7 linked regions of the Homo sapiens genome follow. The protein of the gene in region 1 interacts with the protein of each later gene in a pairwise test. Each region holds a gene or a part of one and is shown in the gene's direction. Other genes may lie near its edges.

Evidence for each region.
Region 2: the proteins of NDEL1 (region 1) and CEP170 interact in a two-hybrid assay, tested with the Homo sapiens proteins (2 studies listed by BioGRID and IntAct).
Region 3: the proteins of NDEL1 (region 1) and LUC7L2 interact in a two-hybrid assay, tested with the Homo sapiens proteins (2 studies listed by BioGRID and IntAct).
Region 4: the proteins of NDEL1 (region 1) and PDZD4 interact in a two-hybrid assay, tested with the Homo sapiens proteins (one large-scale study listed by IntAct).
Region 5: the proteins of NDEL1 (region 1) and RBM10 interact in a two-hybrid assay, tested with the Homo sapiens proteins (one large-scale study listed by BioGRID).
Region 6: the proteins of NDEL1 (region 1) and NUP214 interact in a two-hybrid assay, tested with the Homo sapiens proteins (one large-scale study listed by IntAct).
Region 7: the proteins of NDEL1 (region 1) and KALRN interact in a two-hybrid assay, tested with the Homo sapiens proteins (2 studies listed by BioGRID and IntAct).

What each region holds. Positions count from the first base shown.
Region 1 is NC_000017.11:8,459,884-8,463,383, forward strand, and holds part of NDEL1 (nuclear distribution protein nudE-like 1), read left to right. Parts: intron 1-125; coding exon 126-277; intron 278-3,436; coding exon of another isoform or gene 3,437-3,471; intron 3,472-3,500. UniProt on the Homo sapiens protein: Required for organization of the cellular microtubule array and microtubule anchoring at the centrosome. May regulate microtubule organization at least in part by targeting the microtubule severing protein KATNA1 to the centrosome.
Region 2 is NC_000001.11:243,189,282-243,192,781, reverse strand, and holds part of CEP170 (centrosomal protein of 170 kDa), read left to right. Parts: intron 1-1,287; coding exon 1,288-1,764; intron 1,765-3,500.
Region 3 is NC_000007.14:139,366,394-139,369,893, forward strand, and holds part of LUC7L2 (putative RNA-binding protein Luc7-like 2), read left to right. Parts: intron 1-3,500. UniProt on the Homo sapiens protein: May bind to RNA via its Arg/Ser-rich domain.
Region 4 is NC_000023.11:153,820,545-153,824,044, reverse strand, and holds part of PDZD4 (PDZ domain-containing protein 4), read left to right. Parts: intron 1-3,500.
Region 5 is NC_000023.11:47,179,721-47,183,220, forward strand, and holds part of RBM10 (RNA-binding protein 10), read left to right. Parts: exon of another isoform or gene 1-61; intron 62-159; coding exon 160-320; intron 321-491; coding exon 492-589; intron 590-698; coding exon 699-786; intron 787-1,494; coding exon 1,495-1,681; intron 1,682-1,786; coding exon 1,787-1,926; intron 1,927-2,028; coding exon 2,029-2,146; intron 2,147-2,230; coding exon 2,231-2,322; intron 2,323-2,441; coding exon 2,442-2,606; intron 2,607-3,500. UniProt on the Homo sapiens protein: Binds to ssRNA containing the consensus sequence 5'-AGGUAA-3'. May be involved in post-transcriptional processing, most probably in mRNA splicing. Binds to RNA homopolymers, with a preference for poly(G) and poly(U) and little for poly(A).
Region 6 is NC_000009.12:131,132,086-131,135,585, forward strand, and holds part of NUP214 (nuclear pore complex protein Nup214), read left to right. Parts: intron 1-510; coding exon 511-574; intron 575-1,020; coding exon 1,021-1,124; intron 1,125-2,812; coding exon 2,813-2,919; intron 2,920-3,500. UniProt on the Homo sapiens protein: Part of the nuclear pore complex. Has a critical role in nucleocytoplasmic transport.
Region 7 is NC_000003.12:124,724,597-124,726,825, forward strand, and holds the end of KALRN (kalirin), read left to right. Parts: 3' UTR 1-1,729; downstream 1,730-2,229. UniProt on the Homo sapiens protein: Promotes the exchange of GDP by GTP. Activates specific Rho GTPase family members, thereby inducing various signaling mechanisms that regulate neuronal shape, growth, and plasticity, through their effects on the actin cytoskeleton.

The sequences.
Region 1 (3,500 bases):
ACTAACCACCATTATCAACTGAGATGAGTAAGTTTTGAGGCTTGAAATAGAAATGGTTTGAAATGCAAATTTTTATGTGCAGCTACTGTTTTGACAACCATATCATTCCTCCTTCTTTTTTGTAGGCTTTAGAATCCAAATTAGCAGCTTGCAGGAATTTTGCAAAGGACCAAGCATCACGAAAATCCTATATTTCAGGGAATGTTAACTGTGGGGTGCTGAATGGCAATGGCACAAAGTTCTCTCGATCAGGGCATACATCTTTCTTCGACAAAGGGTAAGTCCTGAATGTTTTAAGTGATAATTTTTTGAGTAGTAAAGTGACAGGTTAGTAAGTGAGCATAATGAAGCCTTGAAAAGGTAAACTCAGCTTGACAAACCTTCCCGAAGCCTGTTATCATTCTAATCTTAGGTGACATGACGTCTGTTGTTGTCCTCTAGTCCCCATGGAGTCTGTTGCCCCAGGAACCCTGAATCTGAGGCTTCTGTCCTGGGAAGCAGACTCTTGAAAGGCAGCAGTGTGAGGCTCTGGTGAGTCAAAATGACTGCGATAAGGTCCCTGTTCTCCAGGTGCTTACAGGCTGGCAGACTTGGAAATATTTTTTTGGGGTAGAAGACAGCATCACAATTAAATATATGCAAACTCTACAACAGACATCCCCTGTGAGAATTTTAGAGAAATATAAAGCCCTGAAGTACTTAGGCACTGGATCAAATACAGTTTAGGAGATACAACTTTTGTATAAAGTTAAGGCTTTTTTGAAGATTGAAATAAAATTGTTTTAAGGTTGAAGCATCCTTAATGCAAAAAATTTCAGTTAGTATGGAAGTATATGAACTAAAAAGTCATGGTTTCCTGCCTTCACACTGTTTCTGCATTCCTTACAGTTATTCCAAGGCATGCCAAATCATATTTTTATGCATCTGCTCTAAGTTGTTTGTAACACAGTTACGGGATTATACTTTAAATATTGCTTTGCAGTGTGCCTATCATGACTTCTATTGCCATTATCTTTCCATGTCATGTATATTATTCTACCTCAATTTACTTATTTATTTTTAAATACTACATGGTAATACGTGGTTGTATGAGTATGCCTTAATATAGGTCACTATTAGGACCCGTGGCCTGGGATGCTCACGGTGTTGCCTAAGGTAGTTGTTATTGAAACAGCCAACAGGCACCCGTGATCCTTGGCTACTGTCTCTGCTTTGAGTCAAAGAGGTAATTCTTGCTTGTTTTTCTCTGAAAGCAGAGCAGGTACAACTCTAGAAACGCTCACAATCTCTGAAAGCAGCTGGGATTTTCTGCCGTCCTCAATAATTATGGCACATGTGTAAAGGAGCAGATTCGACACACGGTGCACTCTGAATAGGCTCTTATCCTTGCAGTGGAGTGTTTTGGTTGATCTCTGTCCCTGATTTTACCCTGGAGAATATACATTTCATTAAGGATTTTGTATTAAAAGCACATCCTAAAACATCACTATACAAATTAGAACTTTATTCTTTCTTAAAAAATTTGTTTAAATAATTTTTGTTTTCTTTTGAAGAGATGGGGGTCTCACTCTGTTGCCTAGGCTGATCTCAAACTCCTGGGCTCAAGTGATCCTCCTGCCTCAGCCTCCCAAAGTGCTGGGCTTGCCGCCGCGCCCAGCTGAAATCAGAACTTTATTCTAACCATTGGGTTTCCTCGGGTGGAGTAAACATAAAATTGATTTTCCTCAGGCTTAGGAGTTTCAGGCAGACTTGCGGCAGCCCTTGTTTTTATAGTGGAATGATAAATGGAATGACTGGATGGTTTTACATGAGCGTAGCCATTTCCCCTGAATGATATGGAGAACTTTTAGGGTAGTCTTCATAAATGTTGGAAGCAGTGCCTAATTATTTTTCCCTACAACTTATAATGATCCTCTACTAGAGTAGTTATTAGTTTCTCCTTGGAATCGTATTTCTTGATGGGCCGCAGGTGCCTTTCATGAGAGCAGGTGTGAATCATAAATGGATAGGTCGGACAGGTGCCTGTGCGTGTGGAAGCCCTGAAGAACAGTCACGAGGAGGGAAGGATAACACTGTCTGTTCAGGGTCGCTACTCCTGCCCGCCACTTGCCTCCCAAGACAGAGCACCAGGGCAGGGATTGCCAAGAGGTGAGCCTGTTCTGAGGGAGATGTGGGGACCTTAGGGTGAGCTGAAGCCAGGAACAGGCCTTGGGCACACTGACTGCACCTCTGCCCCTTGAGAGCATCCGAGATGTAAGTGTAGGCTTTACTTCCTGAGCTGAACCCGGAAATGTGCTGTGCTTCCCAATCGGAACAGTTGCAGATACTGAGTTTTGGTTTTAAATGGTAGACATTTTACATTGTGCCTTTTCTATTAAGAAATATGCTTTTGTGGGCTGGCTGTTGTGTGAGTGTTTAGCTTATATGATAAGTGGATTGTGTATGCGCACTGAAATATTAACCTACTGTTGCTGGAGTTGTCTTTCTAGTTGCTGTATTCCTGAGGATAACTCTTTTGTGGGTTTTGCTGTGTTTTCACTTTCTTGCCGCTTTGCTTCGATTCCGGCTTTTGGCCTGTCTGGCTTTTTACCTCTGGCTTTTCTTCTGCCAACCTGTTGACCAGATAAAAACCAAGATGTTGTGTAGCAGCCGCAAAAGGAAGGGCAGGATATTCCACTTCCCAGGTCCATTATACACTCTGGCAGGTTAAAAACACAAAAGCCTGTCTGTGTAGAAGTGGAGAAGTATGGCTTGTAGTTTCAGCATGAGAAAAGTGCCCCATTTGAAAAAGCCCTCCACTGCAGAACCTGCCTGCCCTCCCTCTCACTCCTGAGGAGTCTGTAGCACCGTGGTGATGGCTCACTAGTGCTGCCAGAAACCTGCGGCAGGATTGTTTGGGGGAGAGACATCATCAAAGTAGGTTTGTGTGTGTGTGCATGTGTGCGGGTGTACATGTGTTCACCTTCCCACCCGCTGAAACTTCAGATGCAGTGAAGCCTTCTCACATAAAACAATATACCTTAACTGGGCGTATTGCTCTGTGGGATTCAAAAGTATTTTGTAAATTCTGGTCACTTGAGGGCTTCTTGGAATCAGGTTTTTGTCTAGTCTGTGAGCACTTCTGCCAGTTCCTGAAACATGGGCTGCCGTGCCTGCTTCCCAGGTGCCGAGCTGTTTCCTTCAACCATGGTCACCCTTTGTCTCACCATCTGAAAGGACACACATTTCATGTGGAGTGTGGTCGCTTGGAGTCTCTCAAAAACACTCTTTTTTTTCCCATAACTTTATGTAGTTTCTTAGGTAACATGTGCTCTATTTTTGTAAGCCACTCTGAGTTCTTTTGGGCTGTGTGTAGGTGGGCATGGACTAATTTTAGGGCGTGATGTGGAAATAGTATTCGTATTACTGTTTAATATGTTCTCCTTTCTTTTATTAGGCAAGAAAAAGTCATATTTCCCACGTTGTTCATGGGTAACTGAATTTGTTTGCTGTGCTCTTTT
Region 2 (3,500 bases), on another chromosome or scaffold:
GTCAGGTTTTATATTATTTCATATTCAGACTGCTGTCAAGAAACCAATTATAGTACCTGACAGATCCCACTAAAATTTAATTTTTGAAAAGATGTTTCAAAAGACCAAACGCTTCACTTAATTAGAAAATGTTTGGAAACAACCTAGTCTCCCTGTATTGCCTTGTTTTCCTAATAAATTGTCTGTAAGTGATTTTTCTATTAATCTGTTTAAAAGCAGAATTTATTTTTGAGCTTTAGGGAAATATGTCTCATTTCAACTTGCTCTTCATTTTGATAATGGACATGCTTTGCTTCTTCAACAACAGGACAATAGCATCTTTAATTTTTTTATTTTGCATTTGCGTACCGAAAACGTTTTAGTTGTCATTTTTATTTATGTATTTTATTCATAAATGCATCTGTTTCTATACTTTTGTATTAGATTCTGAGGCAACAGAAGAATAGTGATAGTGTTCCAGAGTTGCTTGCTCCTTCTGCCAACTCATGTTAATCTGAGGTTTACAATTCAGCTTTCCTCCAAGGAATTTTGACACTTTTGCATATTCTGCTGTATGGAAATGTAAACTTCCAGAGTTATTGTCTGGAAACTGAATTTCCTATTTTAACCTTATTTCGTTCACACTGCTGCTTGGATTGCAAACCACATGTTTTAGTCTTTATAAAATGTTTGTATCTTCTTGCAAGGATCGCACTTCAGCAATATCTTTGTCATTCTGAAAGTAATGTTTCCGAATGTAATGGTGAAGAATGGTAAGTGGAATCATTACTTCCAGAAGATCACTTACATATTTACTTCATGTTTGTATTCTCATTTGAGCACCTATTCTCCTTTGGAGCACTACATGTGTTCATATATATTTCAGATATCTCATCTTGGCGACTTGAGAAGGGAGTTCATGGTTTTTCTGTCACTTTTTATATATACATTGAACATGCATCTCCATCTACATTTTATTTTAATTCTTTTGGACCTTGATGAATTCTAGATCCAGGTTGGAAAAAATATGGACCTAGCCATGCAAGATCCATTTCTTAACTGCTTTGCTCTCATTTGCCATTGCTGCTGCTTATCTTCCATCCCCTATTGGTAATCAAATCGCATGTTTATAATCAAGATTCTTTCTTCTCTGTGACATTTGTTCTGTGATATAAATGCCATTGGTTTTCATCCAGACTGTGATCTGCCTTCTGGTTCTCACGGAGTAGTACACATGGCCATTACCAGACTCCCTCAAGTGCCAGAAGCAATCAAATATTTTGAATTTTCTCTTATTTTTCTCATTAGGGTGCGGCATAGATGCCAAGCAAGTTGAGGAACAATCTGCAGCTGCAAATGAAGAAGTACTTTTTCCTTTCTGTAGGGAACCAAGTTATTTTGAAATCCCTACAAAAGAATTCCAGCAACCATCACAAATAACAGAAAGCACTATTCATGAAATCCCAACAAAAGACACGCCAAGTTCCCATATAACAGGTGCAGGGCATGCTTCATTTACCATTGAATTTGATGACAGTACCCCAGGGAAGGTAACTATTAGAGACCATGTGACAAAGTTTACTTCTGATCAGCGCCACAAGTCCAAGAAGTCTTCTCCTGGAACTCAAGACTTGCTGGGGATTCAAACAGGAATGATGGCACCCGAAAACAAAGTTGCTGACTGGCTAGCACAAAACAACCCTCCTCAAATGCTATGGGAAAGAACAGAAGAGGATTCTAAAAGCATTAAAAGTGATGTTCCAGTGTACTTGAAAAGGTTGAAAGGTAAAGTGATTTGATCATTCAGAACTTCCTACTTTACGATAAAGAAAATCTGGTCTTCATTTACTAGACTACTAGTAGATACTTACATGGTAGAAAACATTCTGCTTTTTTCAAAGGTTATATTTAGTCTTAAAACTAAACAGGAAGCTACACTGCCCATGTCCAATTTCCTCATTCAAAATAGTCTTCCTTCATTTTCTTGACAAAACCAGATTGGTTTTATGAGCTTATATTTATGCTATAAAACATGTTTCTTTTTCTTCTAGAAATATAAGATTTATTAAGTTTACCAGTAGAGTTCCCTAGAAGATGAGTTCCATCATTTTCTTGATTTAAGGAAAAGATATATTCAATTCTGTTCTCTATTGAGATCAATATCTAGATTCTGAAAGAAATTTTAAGTCATTTGGTCTGAGCCAAAAGTTCTACTTTGGTAATGCAGTCACATCATTGATGGAGCGCTTCAAAGTATTCTCAGTGGTTACTCATAAAACAAAGATTTTTGGTTTAGAAATATTTGGTAGGATCTATTAATCCAGTTTTAAAATTTTTTTTAATATTAGGACTTCATGAAAATTAGAGTTGAATGTTCATTTTTGAAATAGTTATATATACTTTATTTGTGTAGAACTTAGCCAAAATTAGTACAATTTGTATGTTTGTACACTGATGTATCAGCTGATCAGTTTTTTCTCATTGGTTTTGCCAATTAAATTTATTTTAGAATTGAGTATAGATTTATGTTACCCTATCTTTTATTTAATAAGCTATCTATAAGGAAAACGATTTTGAACAAATTGTGATTACACGTTTAGCTGACCATTCTGTTACTATATTAGGAGTTTTTGTACTCCTAACACTTCATCTAGTACTTGAGCATGTGATAGGTACTAATTTGAAAACAATGGGCGATTTCTCTGTCAATGACAAGACTGTCCCTGATTTAATCTGTACCTTATGTCCTGGCATTCTGATCAAGTAATGAAGAAATAGTATTTGTATACTTATTTCTGATTTGCTTCTAAGACATTTCCGGACAGTGAGATGATGTGATTACCTAATTATTTGTTGGAGCCTATCACAATATTTAATTATAGTTATCAGCAGTTACCTGGCATATGTATTTTTGAGACATGATTGTGACATTTTACTTCTAGACAATACGTAATTGAGACATTTTGTTTCTGTAGGTTAACACTCACAAACACATAGGCTGTTTATATGAATTGGATAAATAATATTGATCTCCTAGTACAGTATAAGAGGTAGCTGAACCTTGAGAATTTAGAAATAACTTAGACTTTTTAAAACCACTCTTAATAAACAAAAACTGAGGTAAAATATCCTTTTAAAAGGTAATCATTTTAAAAATACCTTTATTAAACCCATTTATAACTTAGTCATTATAACTATTTTCTATATTGACTATTATTATTACTACTATTTTTTTTTTTTTTTTTTGGAGACAGAGTCTCGCTTTGTCACTCAGGCTGGAGTGCAGTGGCGCGATCTCGGCTCACTGCAAGCTCCGCCTCCTGGGTTCACGCGATTCTCCTGCCTCAGCCTCCCGAGTAGCTGGAACTACAGGCGCCCACCACCACACCCGGCTAATTTTTTTTATTTTTAGTAGAGACGGGGTTTCACCGTGTTAGCCAGGATGGTCTTGATCTCCTGACCTCGTGATCCACCCACCTTAGCCTCCCAAAGTGCTGGGGTTACAGGCGTGAGCCACCGCG
Region 3 (3,500 bases), on another chromosome or scaffold:
TGGATAGTATCTATAATATACCTGGCTGTTCTGTTCTGTACTGTGCTCTAGTATTAGTTTAAATGGTAGACTTTTCTCTTAAAGTAACTTTAATAGTTTAATAGTTAAAGTTACTTGAAGGTATGTTTTAGATCAGGGACTGGCACTATGGCCTCCTGCTTTTGGTAAATAAAGTTTTATTGGAACACATCCATGCCGATTCATATACATGATGTCTATGGCTGCTTTGGCTTACGACAGCAGAGCTGAATGGTTGCAACAGAGTCATATGGCCCGCAAACCGAAAACATTTACCATTTGACTCTAACAAAAGCTTGTTGATCACCATTCTGGTTTAGTTATTCTAAACCAAGTGTGGTCCTTGGAGCAGCAATTCAGCATCACCTCAGCATCACGTCGTATTGTTAGAAATATAAATTCTTGGACCCACCTACTGAGTCAGAAATTCTGGATATGGGCCCCAGCAATCCATGTTTTTAGAAACCTTCCAGGTGATTCTGATACACATTAAAAGTTTGAGAAACCCTCTTCTAGATCAGTGTTTCCCAAATGTTTGTCACACTTATTGCCTTTATTATTATTTATTTTTATTTTTTATTTTTTGGAGACAGAGTCTCTGTCTCCCAGGCGTGAAATGCAGTGGCCTGATCTTGGCTCACTGCAACCTCCGCCTCTCGAGTTCAGGCGATTACCCTAGCTTCCCGAGTGGCTGAGATGACAGGCATGCACTGTCATGCCCTGCTAATTTTTGTATTTTTAGTAGAGATGAGGTTTTGCCATGTTGGCCAGGCTGGTCTCAAACTCCTGACCTCAAGTGATCTACCTGCCTTGGCCTCCCAAAGTGCTGGTATTACAGGCGTGAACCACCATGCCTGGCCTTGCCTTTATTATTATTTACTGTTTTCTGTTTATTTAATATTTTCCTTTATGTCAACTCACTTTCTAAAAATTTTAAGTTAATTTTAAAATGAAAGTTTATACCACCATAAAAATAAATACAATGAAAACAAAATGGTGTATTATGTAACTAGACTCTTGTCACTTAGGGTTCCTGTGCTAAAAATTAGAAGTTGTTAAATTTATTAAACAAGTACTGTTGCAAAATGGGAACTTTTTTTCTTGACTTAATTGTGATTAATAATTTCCTTACTGAGTGGTATTTAAAATGTCTTGTTGGCAAAATCATGTAACACCTAAAGTCATCTTTTGTGCAAATCTCATACTTTGGAAATTACTGTTCCAGGGAGTATTCATGTGAAAGGAAAGCTGTTTGAACTATATATATACCTAAGCCTGTAAGCAGAAATGACTGGACAGAAATACAAGCCTGTGAGACAGAGAGATCTAGGAGATCCCTAGAGAGGTCCATCAAGACCTCCAGGATGAAATTACCTCATTTAGCTCAATTTCTCACCTCTCCGTTAGTGCTTTGGTCCACGGGGGTCAGTGTTTCTGCAGGATTTCACCAACTGGTTCCACAGTGGGAATGTGAAGAGGTACCTGGCTGTGGGAAAAGCTGCTTATCAAAGAGAGGCCTGATAGAAATGCTAGGGAAAGTGGCTGTGAGCCTGCATTATGGACGGGAGCAGAGCGGCAGGGCATGTTGCTAGGACTAAGCAGTCGATTCACGTGAGTCTGGACACCATGTATAAATATTTTGAAAACTTCCTGTTACAATTTAATTTACTCCATTGTGTTAGAGGGAGTGCTTCCCTGCACATGGTGTTCTGTATATTTATTGGTTGATGTGCTTTAGGGTATAGTAATTATTTATAGCAATAGATTGATACCCAGGTTGCAGAGTTGCTTTAGTTATATCTTTATTTCCTTTTCTTAGAGATTATAGACATAATTTGCTTCTGTCATCTTTTGACCAAAAATCTAATGGGAATGAAGAATTACACTTGAATGTTTATTTTTAAGTAATAAGTTCTGTGATAGTGATTATAGGTGTCTGCATTTAAAAAAATGTTTTAAAAAGTACAGAGGTCAAACAAGCATCTGTATGATTGAACAAATGTTATTTCGTATATTTCTGTCAAATTTTAAAAAATGGATAAAGAGGCCGGGCACTGTGGCTCACGCCTGTAATCCCAGCACTTTGGGAGGCCAAGGTGGGTGGATCACCTGAGGTCAGGAGTTCAAGACCAGCCTGGCCAACATGGTGAAACCTGTCTCTACTAAAAATATAAAAATTAGCCAGATGTGGTGGTGGGTGCCTGTAATCCCAGCCACCCGGGAGGCTGAGGTTGGAGAATTGTTTGAACCCAGGAGACGGAGGTTGCTGTGAGCCCACATGGTGCCAATGCACTCCAGCCTGGGCGACAGAGTGAGACACCGTCTCAAAAAAAAAAAAAAAGTAAAAAGTGCATAAAGCATTACAAATAAAGTCTTTTGTGGTCCCCTTCACCGTCTCAGTCCTTTCCCCAGAGGCAACCCTTTTTGTAAATTTGTTGCATATTCACTGTGAGGCAGTATTTCTGCTGTGTTGTTTAGTTTTAAGGCTCACGTCTCCTTCATGGTGATCTGTTTTTCATTTTAACTTCTTCCTTTATCATTGGGTTGTCTATCACCTCTGTCCCTTGATATTTTCATCTTTTTTTTTCTTTTTTATTTCTTTTCCTTTGGATTTGGGGAGGCTCTAGTTGGCTTCTGTAGCTATCACCAGCTGATGAGAACTTGTCTTTTTTAATAGATAAATCAGCCAGTTACTTTTTCTTTGATTATTTTCAGCTATTGCTTGATAGCCAAAGATAGCTTTCGTTACTTCTAATTTTGTATATAGAAAGTTCTGGATGATAGAAGGCACCGGCTATCCAGAGTGCAATTGTTACTATGTCAGAATTACAGCTCTGCAAGTAAGTATCAAAATATAAAATTTAGCAGGCTGTAACTTTTTATGCCATATATCTTAAAATAAATTCTATATAACCTATTTTAGGACTTAATGTTAAAGTAACTATTCAGGCTTTTCTGATGTCTCTTGTAAATTTAAGAAGAGGAATAGGCTGATAGATTTCCTAAAGCACATACCCCCCAAAACATGATAGCATTGGTCCCTGCCAGCTACCAAGACCCTTTGCTTGTATTAATATAATGAGAGAAGATAGGTGCAGGGCATGGAATAGAGCCTTGGAATGGAGATTCTTTAGTATTCCTGTTCTCACATTTTCATCATCACCATTCTGGTTAGCTTCAAAAGATCCTACAAGGTTTTTCTTCTACTAACAAGGCTGTTCCCCAGTTTCATTCTTATAATCTTGTGATATGGATTTTCACAGACAAGTGGGCCAGATTTTTAACATTTTAAAAACATTAATCTTTGATCATATCCAGCAAGAATGAACTTGTTCTGGAGATTTCTTCTACAGTGGGCATCACATTTTAAAAATGTTTGGCTTGTCATGGGGATTATGGTGGGGGGTGATACTGGTACCTATTTCTGATTATAAACTTATGGGACCATATGAACCAGAAGATTAAGAAGGATAGCTTTTCTG
Region 4 (3,500 bases), on another chromosome or scaffold:
TTTGCACACTGAAGATGTGCAGGTTACCACCCAGCAACAGACCTCACCAAAGCTTTAGAACAGGAACTCCATGGCCACATGCACGCATCCTGGGGAGAAAGGTGTCCTTTCCTTCCTTCTACTTCAGGGGCCCTGCCAGAGAAGGCAGTGCAGTGTGGAGATAGGAATGGAGGCAGCCACCAACTGACAGCTGTGTGGCCAGGGGCAAGTCGCTGCATGGCCCACTGGCTCAGTGACTCAGTTTCCTCAACTGTGAAATGGCAGTGAAGAGTGCTTGCGTCCGAGGGCCATTGTGACAAGGAAAACAGATGGTGTGTCCCCCGGGATCTCACTGGGTGGAGGAGGGAGTTGCTGCCCTCGGGCCATTCAGTTGGTCATTAAGAAGTGGAAATTGGCTGGGTGCGGTGGCTCACGCCTGTAATCCCAGCACTTTGGGAGGCCGAGGCGGGTGGATCATGAGGTCAGGAGTTCGAGACCAGCCTGGCCAGCATGGTGAAACCCCATCTATACTAAAAATACAAAAAATTGACCAGGCGTGGTGGCTCACGCCTGTAATCCCAGCACTTTGGGAGGCTGAGGTGGGCGGATCACCTCAGGTCAGGAGTTCGAGACCAGCCTGACCAACATAGAGAAACCCCATCTCTACTAAAAATACAAAATTAGCCGGGCATGGTGACACATGCCTGTAATCCCAGGTACGCGGGAGGCTGAGGCAGGAGAATTGCTTGAACCCGGGAGGTGGAGGTTGTGGTGAGCTGAGATCACGCCATTGCACTCCAGCTTGGGCTCGAAACTCCATCTCAAAAAAAAATATATATATATATATTAGCTGGGCATCATGCACCTGTAGTCCCAGCTACTCGGGAGGCTGAGGCAGGAGAACTGCTTGAACTCAGCAGGTGGAGGTTGCATGAGCCAAGATCAAGCCACTGCACTCCAGCCTAGGTGACAGAACGAGACCCTGTCTCAAATAAATAAATTAATTAAATAAAAAATAATGAAAAAGGAAATTATATGGAGAAGGCCTTACATCTGGGTATGTCACAGTTAATGCCCAGTGACAGAAGAATGTCCAATATTATTCTGAGAATTTCTCTCAGGAAAGGGACCTCCAAGTTTTGAAGAAGTGTGATGTAGTACAATATTAGTTAGGACAGCCTGGGCAACATATTGAGACCTTGTCTCTACAAAAATAAAAAATTGCTCAGGCGTAGTGGCATGCGCCTCTAGTCCCAGCTTCTGGGGAGGCTGAGTGGGAGGATTGCTTGAACCCAGGAGTTGGAGGCTTCTGTGAGCCGTGATTGTACCACTGCACTCTAGCCTGGGCAATGGAGCCAGACTGTGTCTGGAAAAAAAAGAAAGAAAGACAGAGAGAAAGAGAGAGAGAGAGAGGGAGGGAGGGAGAGAGAGAGAGAGAGAGAAAGAAAAAACAGATGGACAGGGAACAAAGCGGAGGCATATGTGGTCATTTTGCACAGGAGTTGGGCCGGAGGAGGCGAGGCTGAGCAGCCTGGGGCTGGACAAGATGTCCTCCCTTTCAGTGCATTCTGCCTGTCCTCATGGCTGCTTGGAGCATTGAGAATGAAAAACGCTGCAGAGGGAATATTGCTTTGATTGTAAAACGCTGCAGAGGGAATATTGCTTTGATTGTTGCTAGATGTGAACTGTGCCCTTAGCCAGTCAGGTTAGCCTGAGGTGGGTGGGAGGATGGGTTTAGTTGCTGGGCCACGTGCCTGGAAAGCTGTGAATATGTACCCGAAGGTTGATCTTGAGAATGGCTTCAGGAAGTGGTTGGCTTTTCCTGTGCAAGGTGTGGGACACCCCTCTTTTCCTGTGTGTTTTTTTTTTTTTTTTTTTTGAGACAGAGTCTTGCTCTGTCACCCAGGCTAGAGTGCAGTGTTGTGATCTCGGCTCATTGCAGCCTCCGCCTCCTGGGTTCAAGCAATTCTGCCTCAGCCTCCCGAGTAGCTGGGATTACAGGCACCTGCCACCACGCCTGGCTAATTTTTGTATTTTTAGTAAAGACAGGGTTTCATCATGTTGGCCAGTCTGGTCTCAAACTCCTGACCTCTAGTGATCCGCCTGCCTCGGCCTCCCAAAATGCTGGGATTACAGGCGTGAGCCACCGCGCCCGGCCTCCTTTCTGCTTCTGAGCCAGGACTATGGAGGTGTCTGAGAGGCCGCCGCTCTCCCGGAAAGGTGGGGGCCAGGTGGATTGATGAGACTTCAGCAGACCCTGGGCTTCGGGGAGGGAAGGAGAAGTGAGGGGAAAGAAAGATGCCCTCATGCAGAAGGCCTTCGTTGAGGTCTGCCCTGGTTCCTCCAGGGCGCGCTCTGAGTCAGTACAGCGCCACCCTCCACCCGAAGTCCTTGTTAAGGTGCACTTTCTGACTGAGCCACTAGCATGGGGCCTGGGATTCTGCACTTCTCACAAGCTCCCAGGTGATGTGGATCCCACTGGCTGTGAGTAGCCAGGGCCTTGGGTAGGGACCGGGAGTAGATCTATGGTAGCCCCAAACCACATTAACATGGGTGGTGAAGTGAGGTGTTGTTTTTTTTGTTTGTTTGTTTTGTTTTTTTTTTTTACAAATAGAGGGTAAAAATTGTTTACAAATAGAGGGTAAAAAAACACACATAGAGGGTAAATCAGAACATCCAGGAGTCGTTGCCTACGTGAGGGCTTTACAGGACATAACTTGTTCTTCCCTGCCATGTGCAGCTAACTGACCCCCTTCCCTGTCACCGGCACCCCTACCGGTATACATGTCTCTCATGGACGCCCAGACACCCCTCCCCCGACTAACTGCTCAAAGGCCTTTGAGATGAAGCCCTCCCATGTTTCTGTCTCTCCTGCCCCCAGGCAGAAAGGGTGGGCACAGAGTTATGGAAGCGGGTGGTGTGGCTTGCCCAGGAGGCCACAGTTGGGGGCGTGGGCAGCCATGCTACTTGCCGGGCCTGTCACCTCTTTGTCCCTGCTAGAATTCTAACATGTTGGTGGAGACATTTTGCAGCCACCAATGCAGTAATTAATTCAGGCAAAAATCATCACTGGATGCCAAAACCATTAGATGTAAGGTCGTTGGGGACAGAATATTCACAAAGTCTCCAAATATTACCCCAAATTACCTGTGAATCAGGAAGGGAAACTGCGTCTTTACAGAGGAGAGATCTGGCAGCTGCCACCTGGACCATGTGATCAAACAGCCTCCCCAACAGTGGGGCAGCCTGACCCTGCCAGCCGCCAGATGCAGGGCTGGGGAGGAGACATACAGCATCTCCTGCAAGGTGCTCTTGTCAAAACGCTCAGCCTGAATCTCACCGCGGGAATGAATCAGGCAAATTCAGACTCTGGCGCATTCTATAAGGACTGGTCTCTTCCAAGAAGTCATTCCCATTAAAGTAAAAAATATATATATTTTTTTCTAGATTAGAGAGGAGACATAATAACTAGAGACCTAACAACCGAATGTAATATGTGTGCTTCTTGATTGAATCCTAGA
Region 5 (3,500 bases), on another chromosome or scaffold:
CGCCAAGCAGAGTTGATCCTGGAGGAAGCAGTGAGGGAAGCGGCAGTTGCAAAGGCACGGAGTGAGTGGGGGCAGAGGAAAGGGAGCAGTGGGGGCATTGAAGGGCAGGGCTGGCAAGAGTGCCAGGGGTGTCCTCTAACATTGGGCCCCTTCCCACAGCCATCATTTTGCGCAACCTGAACCCACACAGCACCATGGATTCCATCCTGGGGGCCCTGGCACCCTACGCGGTGCTGTCCTCCTCCAACGTGCGCGTCATAAAGGACAAGCAGACCCAACTGAACCGCGGCTTTGCCTTCATCCAGCTCTCCACCATCGTGGTGAGGGCGGCACAGTTGGGGGCCGGGCAGCCAGGGTCCCGGCCCCCGGGGTGGAGACGAGGGTCCTTTTCCCCAGCCTCCCACCGCGGCTGCCAGCCTGGAAATCGGGCAATGGAGCCGGGGGCCTCCCCGGGCCTGACCCTTCTGTCCCTGCCTCCCCTCCTCCCACAGGAGGCAGCCCAGCTGCTGCAGATCCTGCAGGCCCTGCACCCACCACTCACTATCGACGGCAAGACCATCAATGTTGAGTTTGCCAAGGGTTCTAAGAGGTCAGGGCCCCACCTGTGTGCCTTCCCACCCTTCCCCTCCCCACCCTCCCACTCCCCCCTACCGCTTGGGGCCTCCTATCTCACTCCCAGTCTCTAACATCCTCCTCAGGGACATGGCCTCCAATGAAGGCAGTCGCATCAGTGCTGCCTCTGTGGCCAGCACTGCCATTGCTGCGGCCCAGTGGGCCATCTCACAGGTACTCAGACCCCTTGTGCCTCCCAGCGTCCTGAGACCTGGGCTTTCTCAACCCTCCTGCACCCTCTCTGAAGCAGGAAGGCTGGCTTGCTATCCATGGATGCAAAACCCTCTCCCAGTAGCTGGCATGGCTATTCTACCTTGCTCCTGGCTCTCTAGACCCCCTGGGACATTCCCCTTCATCATCACCGCAGCTTTCTTCCCAATTGCCTCCCATGCGCTCATGTACGACGCCATTGTGCCTGGCATTCTGTGCTGTTTGGTGGGGTTTTTATTGTCCTGAATAGGTATGATATACACATATCCTTATATGTAATATATACATATATGATATACACGTATCATATGTTCCTGAATAAAAATAACGTATAAGTGGTTGAGAGAAAATTGGGAGAAGAGAATAAAGAAGTAAGAAGATGGTGTCTTCCTTGGCCTGACACCCAACACACACGCCACACACAGCAGAATCAGCAGAATCAGCCCTGGAACATTTTGGCGTTCATCTGTTTTTCTGTCTTGTGTTTGCCACTGGCCTATTTGTTCTCTTGTGGCCAGGCAACCCTCGCTTTCCACTTGTCTTAAGGCTGCATGCTTTGTCTGTCAGGTAGAAATACTAGCCCCACGTGTGGGACAGATGCTTCTAGCAGGTTCCCCACCCCCCACCCCCACACCTTCCTGTTCTAATGAACCCCTCCCACCTGCCCTTCAGGCCTCCCAAGGTGGGGAGGGTACCTGGGCCACCTCCGAGGAGCCGCCGGTCGACTACAGCTACTACCAACAGGATGAGGGCTATGGCAACAGCCAGGGCACAGAGTCTTCCCTCTATGCCCATGGCTACCTCAAGGGCACCAAGGGCCCTGGCATCACTGGAACCAAAGGGGATCCCACTGGAGCAGGTGAGCCCCAGCATCTCTCTCTGCAGCTGTGGTGGGGGCCAGCAGGCATAAAGTCCCCGGCCCCATTATTCACAGGCATTGTCCCTGCCCTGTCCCTCCTTACAGGTCCCGAGGCCTCCCTAGAGCCTGGGGCCGACTCTGTGTCGATGCAGGCTTTCTCTCGCGCCCAGCCTGGTGCTGCTCCTGGCATCTACCAACAATCAGCCGAGGCGAGCAGTAGCCAGGGCACTGCTGCCAACAGCCAGGTGAGTGAGCCCTGTGGGTATGTATCCCGGGGAGGCAGGCAGGCGGCAGGGGTGGCATGGGCAGACACTGAGCCCTGTTCTCCTGTCTGGCCCCATGACCAGTCGTATACCATCATGTCACCCGCTGTGCTCAAATCTGAGCTCCAGAGCCCTACCCATCCTAGTTCTGCTCTCCCACCGGCTACCAGCCCCACTGCCCAGGAATCCTACAGCCAGTACCGTGAGTAGCCACAGCCTGTGGGTAGGGGTGGGGAGTTCTTAATAAAGCAGGGAATAGTGTGACCCCGTTCCCCTCACCCCCTAGCTGTTCCCGACGTCTCTACCTACCAGTACGATGAGACCTCCGGCTACTACTATGACCCCCAGACCGGCCTCTACTATGACCCCAACTCCCAGGTAATAGGGCAGCCCAGGGAGGGATGGGATCGGGTCAGGTCGCGTCAGGAACAGCTAGCCCTGCAGGTTCCCTTCACAAGGTCTTCCCTCACATCCCCTCTTCCCTCCTCCTCCCTCAGTATTACTACAATGCTCAGAGCCAGCAGTACCTGTACTGGGATGGGGAGAGGCGGACCTATGTTCCCGCCCTGGAGCAGTCGGCCGACGGACATAAGGAGACAGGGGCACCCTCGAAGGAGGGCAAAGAGAAGAAGGAGAAGCACAAGACCAAGACAGCTCAACAGGTGAACACCAGGGTCCAGCAGTCACTGGCTGGCTGTGTGGTGTCTTCCAGCAACGGCACTCTGTCAGCTCTTGCCCTCTCCTGCCAAGGGAGATGGCGGGCAGGTGTGGATGTGGGCAGTGACTGCTTAGCAGACCATGCTCTTGCCCCAGCTCTGCTCTTTGCTGAATGGCCTTGAGCCAGAGCAGTCTCCTCAGTGTGTGGCAGGGTTGCCCAACTCCAGGAGGTGGCTTGTGCCATCCGAGTGAGCCCTGTCAGGTGTCTTCTGTCCCATGGTGGGGACCCTCACATTCTGCTGGTGAATATACATGTATGCCAGAGAAATTCTCACAGGCCATAAGGGGGTGGGCAGGAAAAAAGCCCTGCAATGTTTTGTGGGAGTGGGCAGATGGAGGGCACCTCAGTGTCTCTCTGTGGAGAAAGGGTGTGACACTGTGAGCGTAGCGTTTACAAGCAAGCACTAAGTGTTACCTTAGCAACCTGATGAATTCTAAAAATGGTGCTGTGCTGGGGGGAACATGGAAATATAGAATGTGGCATTGTGTCATGCATATAAAGTTATACACAAATAAACATTCCTATGCATTTTTAAATGATAAAATGGAAATGCACAACAAATGTGACAGCGTGGGTGTATGTCAGGGGAAGAGGAGTGTCTTCATCCATTTGCTGCTCCATAACAATACCACAGACTGGGTAATTTATAAGGAAAAGAGATTGATTTGGCTCACAGTTCTGTAGGCAGGGAAGCCCAGTGGTGTTGGCATCTGGTGAGGGCCTTCTTGCCGCATCATAACATGGCAAAGGGCAAGAGAGCATGCATGAGAGCAAGAGAAAATTGGGCCAAACTCCCCCTTTTTATCTGGAACCCACTCAGTGATGGCATTAAATGGAG
Region 6 (3,500 bases), on another chromosome or scaffold:
TTCATGCGTTCATGCGTTTCTTTTCTTTTCTTTCTTTTTTTTTTTTTTTTGGAGACCAAGTTTTGCTTTTGTCACCCAGGCTGGAGTGCAATGACGTGATTTCAGCTCACCGCAACCTATGCCTCCTGGGTTCAAGCAGTTCTCCTGCCTCAGCCTCCCGAGTAGCTGGGATTACGGCACCCGCCACCACACCCAGCTATGTATTTTTAGTAGAGACGGGGTTTCGCCATGTTGGCCAGGCTAGTCTCGAACTCCTGACCTCAGGTGATCCACCTGCCTCGGCCTCCCAAAGTGTTGAGATTACAGGCATGAGTCACCACACCCAGCCACGTTCATGGGTTTCTGTAGGATGAAGTCCTGGAAGTAGATAGCACTATTCTGTTTCTTCAGTCTCTCCCGGCCAAGGAGATGGAACAGGTAGCATCTAAGGAATAGATTAGATTTGACAGTTTGATTGGTTTAGGATTTGTTTCATTTGATACTTTATTTTCCCCTCCAAATCTCTTTCAGACTTTGCAGGAAAAAAAAGTCATTCCTTGTCCTCCGTTTTATGAGTCAGATCATCCTGTCAGAGGTAACAACTGCTTTTCTTATTGGGCTGACCTCTAATGACATGTTATGTATATTACAGAAATTCAAAATCATGTAATGTACCTGCTCAGTGAGGTATTGGTGTTTGCTTTATGAATAATGTCACTATTTCAAACAGCTAATTAAGTCAGTGTAAATTATGGCCCTCTGGGTGACATCTGTGTTTCACGATAAATGACATGAAATGGATCCCGACTTTTTATTACAATTCTTCATAATTTGCCCTGATTATAATCCAGCAGAAAAATTACCATTTGGGGATGAGTTTGGGCTTCTTGGGTCATTGTACCTGTGCATTATATTTAGTCAATGAAATCAGGGCCTTTGATTTTTTTTTTATCCATAGTGGCTATTCCAAACATAAGCTGCTTTTTCTTGTATCTGGTTGCTGTCATTTTTATGAGCTACTGATTAAGATGTGTCTTTCAGTTCTGGATGTGCTGTGGATTGGTACCTACGTCTTCGCCATAGTGTATGCTGCTGCAGATGGGACCCTGGAAACGTCTCCAGATGTGGTGATGGCTCTACTACCGGTATGCCTGTGGAAGAAATTTCATTGTTTGAGAATTAGAGAAGTCTTCTAATAAAGCTGGAGGCTTTGATTTCAAGGGGTTTTTTTGTGTTTGTGTTTTTTTTTTTTTTTTTTGAGACAAGATCTCACTCTGTCGCCCAGGCTAGAGTGCAGTGATGCGATCTCACCTCACTGAAGCCTGGACCTCCTGGACTCAAGTGATCCTCCCACCTTAGCCTTCTGAGTAGCTGGTACTACAGGTGCACACCACTATGCCTGGCTAATTTTTTTTTTTTGGTAGAGATGGAGTTTCACCATGTTGCCCAGGCTGGTCTTGAACTCCTGAGCTCAAGTGATCTGCCCACCTAGGCTTCTCAAAGTGCTGGGATTACAGGTGTGCGTCACCGCACCTGGCCTGATTTCAGGTTCTTTTACTTACTGGCAGTGATTATGCAACTTCAGGTATAAGGTTTCCATGCTGCACCATGGGCCAGGGGTCTAAAATTGGAGTGTCCACAGCATGTTCTACTGTTATGAGGTTAAAAAAAAAATGATTTTGCTTAAGCTATAAACTATGAGTCTTGGTTAACTCGATAAATTTTAGAAAAGCAAGACAGTATCTTGATTTTTAAAATTATTTCATTTGCTCTCGAATATTTAATGCCAACAGTGTGCTAGGCACTGCTTTAAAGCTGAGTATATAGCAGTGATCAAGGTGATGGGCTTGCTTTTATGGTTTTAAGTTTGTTGTTGTTGTTAATTTTTATTTATTTTTTAGAGACAGAATCTCACTCTGTTGCCCAGGCTGGCATGTAGTGGTGCGATCACAGCTCACTACAGCCTCAAATTCTTGGGCTTAAGCCATCCTCCTGCCTCAGCCTCCCGAGTAGTTGGGACCACAGGCATGCACCAACACAGCCAGCTGTTTTTAAATTTTTCGCAGAGGTAGGGTCTTGCTTTGTTGCCCACGCTGGTCTCGGACTCCTGGCTTTAAGCAGTTCTCCCGCCTCATCTCTCAGAGCACTAGGATTACAGGTTTGAGCCACCACACCTGGCTGGTCTTACATTTTAATGGGATAGTCAATACTAAATGTGAGATCAAGGACTGATAAGAGTGATGGAGAAAATAAAGCCGTGTTAGGGATAGATGATGACTGGTATGTGTTTGAGATTGTGTGTCAAGGGAGGCCAATTTGATACTTGAAAAAGATGTCTTGTTTTTAACTCTTTTGGATTTCTAATAAGGTTGAGTTTTTGAAATATGTTTATCTAGATGCCTTATTTTAAGATTAGAGGTTTTTTCTATTCTAGGGGATAATATTAACACTAGTATTTATTAACTGCTACTTATGTTTCATGTACTGGGCTGGAAGTTTTGTATGTATCATTTCATTTTACACTTTACAGTAGCCTCTGAAGTAGGCTTAGTAGGTCTAGTATACACATGAGAACACTAAGTATCAGGAAGGTTGAAAAATCTGCATGTCTCGTGGGCAGAAAGTGGCAGAACAGAGTTTAAATGCAGTTCGGTTGATGGCCAATGTTTGTACTCCTTGTACTAAGTGCTGCCTTTATACCATGTCCGTATATCTGGACTTTGAGTAAATATTCTCATATAACTTTAAATGATTTATTATTTGAGATTCTTTTGCTGTGGGATCTGAGAAAAATTGCACATGAGAATTTTTTTTCTTGCTTTGTTCATTGTAGAAAAAAGAAGAAAAGCACCCAGAGATATTTGTGAACTTTATGGAGCCCTGTTATGGCAGCTGCACGGAGAGACAGCATCATTACTACCTCAGTTACATTGAGGAATGGTGAGCAGAGAGTCTGGACAGGGCATTCCTGCTCTCACTGGAAGATCACACCTGAGTCACCTTGTCCCATGTTGAAATCTTTTCTGATTGATTGATTGATGGATTGGCAGGGTCTCACTCCATTACCCAGGCTGGAGTGCAGTGGCACGATTGTAGCTCACAGAAGCCTGGAACTCCCAGGCTCAAGTGATCCTTCCACCTCAGCCTCCCAGATGGGACTACAAGCACATGCCACCACACCTGGCTTATTTTTAAATAAGTTTTTTGGTTTTTGTTTTTTGTTTTTAGAGATGGGATCTTGCTATGTTGCTCAGACTGGCTTCCCAAAGTACTGAGATTACAGGTGTGAGCTACCGCACCCAGCCTGAAATCTTTTCCATTACAGAGGAAAATGGAGGCTGAGATGCCTTGAACATATTTTCAGCTGATTCTTGATAATGTCTTTCTATTATTTCTGTTTCCCCAATCTTGAATTATTTATCTTAAATACATACTAATTTCAAAAATCTAATTTTCTCAATAACCCCTAGTGATGACTTACGAAAATATTGATATTCAAGGAATATATTAAAAGTTTCCTG
Region 7 (2,229 bases), on another chromosome or scaffold:
TTAAGGCTCTCAGTTGTTTCATTAATTCTAAAGGGTTAAAAAGGGCTGAAATTTGTTTATAGCACTAAATGTTTTTAATAGGAAATTTACTCACATAAAAAATTTAAGCAGAAGTAGTAGAATACAGATTATCATAAAACATATTTTCTATGAAAGGCATTTCTTCCTCATCTTCAATAAATATGAAGAAGTTAGAGGAGAGGAAAAAGCAATCACTCTAAGACAACTTTTCGTCTTTGAGGGACATTATGATAAGCCTGAAATTAATACGCACAGGCTATTGCATTTTTCTGTGAGAAATGTGCCCCTTTGCTGTGAGATTCTAAAATGTGTTCAGATTTAGTTTTTATTCAAATGATCAAGATAACGCATTAGTTAGATAACTGCTATTTCAGATAGTGAGGTTAGCTGAGAAAAGGAAGCATGGTAGAAGAAATGCAAATAACAATTCTTGGAATGCCAACTCCTGAGGCTTAGTTTAACCAAGCTAATTTGTTGGCCCAGGGATGGCCATCATATGAGTTTCCATCAATACCTGACTTCCATCAACAACTGAATCCATGTTCTGGAGTATTACAGAGACTGTTACTATGACCTCAAAGACTGTGGCTACGAATCTGAAGTTAACAAGACATACATCTTCTCTTACTAACTTAAGCCATATCTGTCAACTCTATGTTTGATTTTTCTGACCCTGGTGCTTTTACTTCTGTTTCTGCCAAACTTCAGCCTACTCTATGGGGAAGGTGAGTAAAACTAGTAGTTAGAACAAATATGAAGACTGAAAAAAACTAAACATACTCTTCATAATGAGATCCTGTTCAGAGAACAGTAGTGATCAAAGTGCAAACTGTTGGAAAATATGGATATATGTACATCTGTACATGTATATAGTGTATAATATGTATGTATATGTTATTGCTCATATGCAGAAATCTATCCATTTGCAGACAGCCCAGGTGGGTCAATGTTTCTAATGGAAAACCATTTAGGGCCATTCAAAACCATTAGGGCTAATTTGTGGAGACGAATTCTACTCATTCTGGAATTAATTTGCTGTCTTTTGACATCCACAAAGCCAAACTAACAAAGTGTGAAACATAAAGGGGCCATCATTTAGTTTATTCTGTTTATCTGGACTTATAACTATCTTTACATTTGAACTATTAATAGTTGATTTGCAAACTGTATTGGCATCTCTTGGTTTTGAGTGACCCCTGCCCCCCTCAAGTCTTTTGAGAATTTGGAGTGGGCTTCACTGGCCATTCAGACAAAGGGCCTTATTCATAAGTGGACAGGTTTCCCCATAGGGACCATCGCACATATACATATAAGTACATACTTCCATCAGGCTTGTAACAATTGATTTAAAATCACTCCACAGTATTGATAAATAGCTCTATATTTTCAAGGTGCAGAAGAATTCCACAGCCTTAATTATTTCAGTGTCTTGCTGGTCTGCCTTAAGTGTATCTTCTGGGTTTTTGGTTATTTTATTATTTTTAAATTTTTCTGCTGTTGTTCATTTTGTATGCACACAATGTCGTTTTGTAAAGGTAGGTTGTAAATATTTTATTTGTAAGTCAAAATCACTCATGTGTAATGTTGTAAAGTGATGACCTGCTGTCTTGTTACTGCTACAGTAAATGTTATAAGTTATGGATGAAACTTCAAAATGTACATCTCACATGTTATGCATTCCTATAAATATACTATACTAAAGATACTATATGGTTGTCTCTTTTTTCCTAATTAAACCTTTGTTCAAAGAAAAGAGTAATTTTTTTCTTTCTCCAAATATATGAAAGACTTAGAAAAGGTAAAAATATCACAGGATTATTACAACATGTTTGGCCCAGGATTTTAGAGAGAAAGCAACAATTTTGTGCCCTAGAGTATTCTAAGGCATTTACCCAAAAATGCCAAGGAAACCTCAGAGCCAGGTGTGGTGGCTAGCACCTGTAAATCCTAACACTTTGAAAGGCCAAAGTGGAAGGATCTCTTGAGCCCAGGAGTTTGACACCAGCCTGGACAAAATAAGGAGACACCCACGTCCCCCCAACCCCCCACATATTAAAAATTGTTTTAAAAATATTAACTGAGTGTGTTGGTGCATGCCTGTGATCCCATCTACTTGGGAGGCTGAGGTGGAAGCATCATCTGAACCCGGGAGGTAGAAGCTACAGTGAGCTGTGATTATGCTACCTCACTCTAGCCTGGGCAACAAAG